Linked DNA regions of Homo sapiens: region 1 is linked to region 2. A link means that fine-mapping ties the variant in region 2 to the expression of a gene that starts in the linked region. Tissue or cell type: hippocampus. Region 2 holds a variant in brackets; the other region holds the start of a gene. All regions are shown on one strand. Distances are from middle to middle.

Evidence for each region. PIP is the estimated chance that this variant, and not a neighbour inherited with it, causes the effect. A credible set is the group of variants that fine-mapping cannot tell apart.
Region 1: it holds the start of OPRK1, and the variant in region 2 is the best candidate, but not a certain one, in a credible set for the expression of OPRK1 in hippocampus (GTEx, PIP 0.77).

What each region holds. Positions count from the first base shown.
Region 1 is chr8:53,249,713-53,254,109 of GRCh38, forward strand. It overlaps OPRK1 (opioid receptor kappa 1), which reads right to left and starts at 1,925. Exons shown (of 4, transcript NM_000912.5): 1 at 1,736-1,925; 2 at 1,069-1,373. The coding sequence starts at 1,325.
Region 2 is chr8:53,204,195-53,208,591 of GRCh38, forward strand. The region is part of intron 1 of LOC105375836 (a long non-coding RNA gene); the gene reads left to right. Among named protein-coding and RNA genes, the nearest start is that of OPRK1, 45 kb to the right of the region's middle. The variant G/A (reference allele first, on the strand shown) is at 2,460.

The DNA.
Region 1 (4,397 bases), 46 kb after region 2:
GGTTGTTAAAGTTCATAATAAATAAATGGCCTGTTTCAAAACTAAAATCAAGCTTAAAAAAAATCAGCTATTCATCGTTTCAGAGTCCCTAGCCAGGGTGACTTGCATCCCGCCCTTATTTCATAGAGACTTCTCAAAGGAACACAAGCTTCCTACTCCCTCTCACAGGTGTGTTGACAAAGCTCTAGTGCTCCCAGAAAAGGAAACACATCTATCTTAAGAAAAGTGCAGAACAAAGTTAGGTTTTCCTTTTCTTGTTTTTCTTTCTTAAAGTCAGAATCACTTTGCTTACCAAAAAATTAGCATATATGTGGATATTGGGATACTTATTATTGGAAGTTGACTTGAAGAAATTTCCACACACACACACACACACACACACACACACAAATAAAACCTTCAATTTCTCATGGTGAAAAAAACAGCGAAGTAGTTTTTGAAAATCTCCACAGGCCATGTTTTAGAGGATAAATATTATTTACTGATATTCCTAACAAATGGGATGCCATTTGATACTAAAAAGGCTCATATATGCATATCAACAACGCTAGAGCATATATCAGGTTTTGTTTCATAAGCCAAAACACCAGTCTGAGGAGTCCCAGGAAATTCGGAATTATCTTCAGTGCATTGGGTGGGCTTGAAATTTATCTTAAGAAATATTTGCAAAGGGCATAACAAAGTGCTCCAAACTGGCGCAGGCAAATGGATTAGTTCCTTTACCAGGAACCCCTGACCCTGTTGTCAGCACCCTGGCACCTTGCCCTGCGCATAGAGTTTTCAGCAGAAACACTGGGCCCTAGGGTGGGGTCGGGGGGTTACTCTGAAATCTTCCAGACGCCCCTGGCCGCTCGGATTCGCCTGTGTGAACCTCTCAGCACTCCACCAAAAACTCCCAGAAAATCCTTCACCTCTTCTAGGAAGCCACCCTGTAGCATTTCCAGGATCCTTCACGGAACAGAGTCCCCACCACCTGGCTGGCTGCCCCCACTGCTGCTCCAGTGGCGGGGCCTGACCCTCACTCCCTGCCCCGCCCAGCCCCCAGCGCTGCGCTGTCCCCGCGCTCACCGGATGATCACGAACATGACCAGCGAGTTGCCCACCAAGCCCACGACGAACACTACGGAGTAGACCGCCGTGATGATGACCGGGATGGCCGGGGAGATGTGCGCGGGCTCCAGCTGCGCGTCCTCCGAGCCGGCGCTGCCGTTGCTGTCGGGCTCGGCCCAGCCGGGAAACCAGGCGCTGCTGTTGGGGGGCAGGCAGGCGCTCGGGGCGCAGGTAGGGCCCGGCTCCCCGCGGAAGATCTGGATCGGGGAGTCCATGGTGGGGCGATTGCAGCAGGAAGGCGAGGACAGGCGGCACCTGCGGCGCTGCGGGAGCGAAAGAACCGGCTGGACGCGGAGAGGCAAACTTTGCCCGCGCCCTGGCCAGCGGCGCTGGGGACCCGGAGCCTGCGGACTCCCACCCGGGCCGCAAGTCGCCGGGGGCAGGACAGGGAGAACGGACTTCTCGCTGCCTTTCCGGCCAGCAGGCGCGCCGCTGGGTGCCAGAGAGGGGCGAAGAGCGCTCGCTCCTTCTCCCCCAGCCCCTGAGGTGCCTCCCTCACCAATTCTAGGCACCGGCCCCTGGTGGAACTGTCCCCAGACTGCCTGAGTCCCCAGGGTCAAGCCCCCTTCCCACCTCCCAGCACGGAGCTCTACCTAGAACTGCACCTCGAAAGCCCAAAGCTTACCTATGGTTCCCAGAGACAGGCGAAGGCGAGGTTTTTTACGGGACGCCCTGGTAGGTGCTGAACCGCGCGCTCACGAGTCCCGCTCAGCTCTTGGCATCACCTGCTCTCGGACCCCGGCCCCGCTCTCCGCCCGAGGGCTGCTGTTCCGCCGAGCGCAGCCCCCGCCTCTCAGCGCACGTCTCCCACTACTGGCGGCGGCTCTGCGGGGCGGGGCGGGGCGGGACCGGCGGGACGCAGCCGGGACGCGGCTGGGCGCTGGGGGCCTGCGGGCGGAGAGCTCGTCTGGTGCGCCCGCCCCAGGCCGGCAGGTCCCTGCCCCGCCCCGCCCGCCCGGAGTCAGCCCCCAGCTCCCCAGCCTCCCAGCCCCGCGTCCCCTCCAGCCCCGCAGGCTCGCCCGGCCCACTAACTGCCCGAGCGGCACACCGCCTGGTCCCCGGCCATGCAGCCTTCCCCAAGACCTGAGACTGAGCCATTTAGATTTAGTAAAAAGGAGGAGCATGCCTATTTAGTGCAAGTATGCACCTGGATTTTCATATTGTGTCTAGAACTTCTTATCTGCATAGTTCGCAGTCAGGAACTACGCTTATTAGAATGGCCCATCCAAAGAAAGTAACAAAATGATCCAGTTAGAATAAGACCAGTTCATAAAATAATGACTTAAAAGACACATAAATAGAATATTTCCTTGCGTTCTCTTCCATTCCGTCTGCTCTAACTGGGATGACAGGCTGCAGACAAACTGCACCTTACGGGTATTACCTGAATTGCTGATAGTATCTGAGAAGGGCAAAACACTCTCCTTACCCGGGCCTCAGTGGTGCTCCAGGGAGGTGACAGTGTCTCTGTTTTACATTAATCCCTGCAGCCATCACGTTCTCCTCACTTCTCCCTCACAGTAGGGCTGCCTCCATTATACGGCCGCGAATCTGAGCGTCCGTAAATAAACTGTCACCATCATTTCTTTGCAAAACTCTGCTAGTCCAAGGGTAGCTGTCAGATCCTGCTGAGTGAGAGACATTCTCTTCTCAGGCAAAGGGACCGGCAAGACACAAAGGGAGCAAGGGCTCAGCCCCTGAGGTGAAGGTTCTGAAAGGGAGTGGGGAAGTTCCCCTTCTCCACAGGGTACTGGAGACAGGCCTGGGGGAGACTGGGGGTTTAGGCACCTCAATTTCCCCAGTGGATTCACTGCCTCAGGCTGACAAACACAGGTCCCCACTGCATCCCACAGCTAATGTCCATGCCACACCTGGACACACTAATGACTGATACAGCCCTTCCCTCCATCAGCGGAGGGCAGAAGGGGGTTCCTGTCTCTTTCAAGACGCCATGACCCCAAAGTGGGATTTGACCACCAGCGTCTTGCCGCCTGGAGATGAACAACTCTTTTGAGCAGTGTAATATGAAGAGCATAAGGAAATCTTCCCTTTGTTCAACCATATCCCTTCAACCCTTTCAAATAATTTTGAAAATTATTATCAAGTCTTAGAGTTCTTTTAAGTCTGATTGCAAACTGTCATTGAAGGATCACATCTCCTTCAGTAACACATCAGACCTGCTGAGACCTCATAAGGGCCTCAGTAGTTTTATTTCATTTGAGCACTCTTACCTTTCTTGTTTACCAAATTAATGGCCAAAATAAAGGGAAGACAAAATGAACAGAGCATTGAGAAGCCCTCAGGTGGCTCAGGTTGCCAGGGGAACCCACTCGAGTCTCTAAATCCAGGAAGTATGGCTGCTTCTGTGGAGTCATGCTCTTAGGAGTATGCAATTTTATCATAATATCAGATAAAAGCTCATAAAATAGAAAGGAAAAGTAAACTGCTAAAATGCTATATACTGTTACACACTGATATAAAGCACATGTGGTTATACTTGGCCATTCTACTCAATGCAAACACTATGCTTATAACTAAGTACATGGAAAGCACTTTTAAAGATGAAAATGTGGAGATTTTTATTGGATAATGCTACAATGCTAAGGAGCATCCTGGGTAGTGGGTGGCTTTGACATTTTTGTTAGATAGACTAGATAACCCACCAGTAAATTGCAATTAACTCCCTTTCTTGTGGCTCCAACAACAGATATTGTTGTGCAGCAATGAGTGCAGAGCTGGAGGGAGCAACTTCATTAGCTTAAGACCCCAGTGCAGCCAATGGAGTCTTGCTGAGCCGGGATGCAGCTGGCTTCAGCTCACTTCACTCAGCAGATATTGCAGAGTATCCCCAAGTGGCTGAAGAAAAGGCACCCTCTGGGGATACAACAATACCAACACAGAGACAATCTCTTCTCAAAGAGGATGTGAAGCTAGTGTGACACATGGGATCTAAATTTTTTTAATGTTAGGAATAATTAATAAATAATTAATAACAAATTCATCCAACTCTGGCAAATGTTATGTGGAAAGGTGTTTAATAAACAGTGATAGCCAGTGCAGCAAATTTGCATGAAATTTAAAAATAGCATCCCTTTCATAAGGCACTTTACTTAGATCTGTCAGCAAGTTGTTATAATAAATACCCAAATCAGTCTTGTCTTCGGTGTGAAGCATACTGTGAGATACTGCACACTTAGGTGCAGTGTAGTCTACACAAGTGTGCAGATCCCCTGAAGAAGACCTGGTGTCTGGGAACCCTGCTCAGTCAGAGAACATCAGGGAAGCCC
Region 2 (4,397 bases):
TGTTTCTCTTTTAAGAAGGTCATATAACCCTGTGACAGTGGGTAATCCTTCAAAATACACATTTATATTCTTGGGAGCAGACTTTTCTTGCTAATGGTCGAGCATGCTGGTTAGCCACCATTTCTGCCAGCTGGCAAGCTTCCGGGTACATAATGTCTGGCGAAAGCAGAGGGAGGCAGGAGGGAAGGAAGAAGAGGACATGAATATCAGCATCGCCAACCCTTGCAGACATTCTATCCCCCATTGCTAGCCTAAATGATGAAAAAGAGGGGGTGCCCCAGCCATTGCATAAAGCTCCCTGGTATGTTTCCAGCTGGTGTTTCTGCTGGCCCCAAGAATTCACATCCAAATAAGGGAGACTGAGCTCTCTTCCTTAACCTTCACCTCGCTCTGTCTCATTAGTAGTATCTTTGAAATAAACCATGTGTATTGATTTACCGAACTCCTGGTAATGAAGCTGGTGCTTACAGGACCCACAATGTAAAAAAGAGAGGTCAGAAGAGGACCTCTGCTGTTTCACTGAACTGAGCTCTGATGGGTTCACCACATCCTGCAAAATACATGCCTCAAATACAGCATCTGGTCCTCCAACATGCAGATGCAGGAAGTGGAAATTTTATATATAGAACTATTACCATGGTGTCTTTGGAACTTGTGTGAACCATCACGCTCCTAATTGCCAGATGCCATGCAGCTTTGAGTTACATTTAGGAAATTATCAACGCTGCCAAATTCACATTTAAAGACAATAACAAGGGGCACAGCAATATCAAGTAGGCTCGCAAATCAAATGCAAAATCAAATGAAATTCAGCCACAGACCTTCTGTTTTCATGTTTGTTATGCTTTACCAGGTAACTGAATGTGAAAATAAACCCATGAGGATTCTGTATTTTTTAATGTAGAGCTACAGGTTACAAATCAGTCAGCTTTTGGCAACACAATAGCGTTTCTGAATATTAATTGTTAACAATCTCTGAGCATTGAAATGATCTGAAATATCTTAGATTTTAAAATAAAATCTTCAACTTTCTCTAGGTGATTAATGTCGGAATAGAAATTCACCAAACTTACTCTTTAAACTGAACCTTTAGAAAAACTCTTGCGACCCTAGCCCAAATGAACCAATGGCATTTTGTCATACTACCCTCAGCTTCTTCCACGTGTAACAGATGTCAGGGTTTGGTTTTCAAATGTTTGTCAGCTAAGTCCCCAGAGACCACAACGTATGCTCATGTGTGGCCCTCAGGGCTGCTCAGTAACAAGAAAAAGAGTGGACCCCAGACTTTTGGCTCTGTTCTATCACATAATTTCTGAGGAGTTTCAAATTCAGTTAACTACTCAGCTTCCATATAATGTGCCTCCCTAAAATTCATGTCCACTCAGAACCTCAGAATGTAAACTTATTTAGAAATAGTATCTTTGCAGATGTAATCTAGTTAAGATGAAGTCACACTGGAATAGGGTGGGCCCTAACTCCAGTCCTTATAAGAAAAGAAAACAGAAACAAAGACACATGGGAGAAGGCTATGTGATAAACAGGCAGCAATTGGAGCCATGTGTCCATCGTTTGTGAAACACCAAGGATTATGAGCAGCCTCCAGAACCTGGGAAGATTCAAGGAGGAACTCTTCCCGAGAACCTTCAGAGGGAGCCTGGCCCCACTGACACCTTGATTTCAGACTTCCAGTCTCCAAAACTGGGAGACAAACATTTCTGTCCTTCTAAGCCACCCAGTTTGCAGTGCTTCATTATAGCAGCCCTGGGAAACTAATACAGGAAACACTATCTGTTAAAGAGGTAGTGTTTTAAGGATTTATTCCTAAGTATTTGAAATCGGATCAATGGGAAATGCAAAATGAGTCTTTCCTCATTTTGTTCAACTTTCCTCTGAAAGAGAAAAAGGAACAAGTGTTTCCTCTGAGGTCACAGCTACAGACGCCAGCTAGGCACTGCCAGCCATCTGTCATTCTCCACTATTATGCTTTAAGGAGCAGAAGACTTTCTATGGTAAATAACAGATAGAGAGCAAGCCCAGGGCCCCTTCTTCCAGCATGATCCTTGCTGTCTTCCAAGATGGCACCTGTGAGACTCTAGATCTGAGATCATCCTCATTGATGAAAGTGTCAAAATATAGAAGCATTTCTTTGCAAAAAAAGTTTAGAACCAGGCTGCAGAGAGTGATATTGGCATGCTACTTGTCACATCAATGAGCTTGCACTGGTTGTCTAGCCTTCTGAAGTCTCTATTTCATCTTTTATGAAATGGAAACAATGGCAATGCCTACCTCAGGATTATTTAGAGAGGTAAACAAGTTAAAACCTGAAAAGTGTGTAGAACAATAGTCAGCTCACAAAAGCACTTAGTCAATAATAGCTGTTATTGTCTAGGACAGTCCCAAATGTTCCAGAAGGAAAAGTTCAATATAGAGATTATCATTGCCTGGGAGACATTTGCTTC[G/A]CCTTCTGTTTTCAAATGCTTGCAACATAGAAGACTGGAGTGAATCCAAGACAAGTGTTAATACGTTGTCCAGATCTTTTATCCCAACTGATGTAAAACCATGAAGCAAGATAGCTATCTATCTCTGGTAAATAATCTATGTATTCCCTTGGCACGAGCAGCTTCCATGGCTTTCTGATAACAGTGATAAGAAAATTATTTGTCCATTAGAAGAACACCTTTTTTATCTGCTTTCTTTCACTGTATGGACAGAGTGCTCTTGACTTTTAGCCAAGACTTAGAATCAATTTGAAATGACACTGTTGATAGAGACAGCACCAAGTTTTCCTCCTGTGACACAGAAAATTCCAACTTCATAGGCATCTGAACCAGCACTTTGTGAGGCTGATAGATGCCTTCATTATTCAGAAAACACAATTATCTTTACTGTGTGATCTGTCATGAATATTCTGACTTATTGAATGTGATAGTTCCTAGTCTCCCACAGTATGTTAATTCTAGAAAAAAAGTTGGTCACACTTATAAGGAAGATCACCCATTTACTTATTGTGTTTCTCCATGAAAGTTGACTATTTGGCTTGTTTAGTTTCTTTGAACCCTGTATCGACTCATTTACTCAAAGCATAGAGCAAGAGAGTGAAACATCAAAGTTGGATGGTATCAACATTTCATTGCTTCAAGCTTACATCCAAATTTCACATGGTCTTCAGCTAAACTGCCTCAGGAGAGCTAAGAGCCCCTCTCTGTCTCCAAGTGAGTGCAGGTCCCTGCATTCAGTGGGCACCAAGTGAGCAAAGGAGCACATCTTCATTTTGCTTCTGGAGACTTCTGGTTTCTGGTCTGACACAAAAGAGCTTACATGTTATCACCTCTGTTCTCTGAAGAAGAAAGCTAAAAAAACTGAAAATCAATGACTCTTCTTAAATCCATCAGAAAATTGAGGTGACAAGACCAATTACTGACTCAAAAGCTGGAAAGAGAAAGATATGGAGAACCAGAGTGTACTGAGCAAAAGCCCCAGCTAGTAGAAACACTTAAAGGGTGATGGACTAATTCCTAGAGGCTGAGAATGGACTACTTCAGTAGAGAAAAAACCCCTCAGGGCCCAGCTGTGGTGGTGATGGGGATACATGATGAGTTGCAACTCCAAGAGACTACCAGATTCTCAAGGTGAAGATCAGAGAGAAAACCCTGCCTGATTTGAGCAAGGGGAAGGAAAGTAATCATTTTGAAATACACTTGGAGCATTTCAGTCTCATTAATAGTGGTAAATCCTAAAGGAAAACTATGTTATTTCCTTAAGGAAAACTTAGATCAACTAAGATGGGTTTTACCAGAGCCTAACCAATGAGGGGGAAGGGAAACACAAAATCTCAGCCCCCGTTCCCCTCCTATCCCACCTAAGACGGTGAAAAAAGCATGAGGAAGCATTTGTGAAGATTACATCCCAGGAACATAGGCCCATTAAAAGACTGAGACTCAGTTATAGAACTACAAAACATTTAGCTTTCCCCCATACCTTACCACTGTATCAATAGAACACTTTTATAATAAGAGAGGATTACAGATAAAAAGAACTGCAAGGCTCAGATTATTTTAGAAGACATCTGTAGGGAAACCAAAGACAACAGGGGAGTTGAAAACAAGGGCACTAGAAGAAATTTTAGCCTCGGATACCTATAGCAACAGCAAACAGTAAACACAGCCTAACTCCTTCCTAGATAAATATAAAATTGCACACTAAAGGAATATTTACCTCGGTTTCCTTTACACAGTACACCATGTCTGGCTCAAAAAAACAAAAACAAAAACTCAGGGCATACTAAAAAGAAAAAACACAGACTAAAGAGGCAAATCAAGCATCAGAATCAGACTGGGATGTGGCAGCAATTTTAGAATTATCAGACTAGGCATTTAAAATAATGGATTAATATGCTA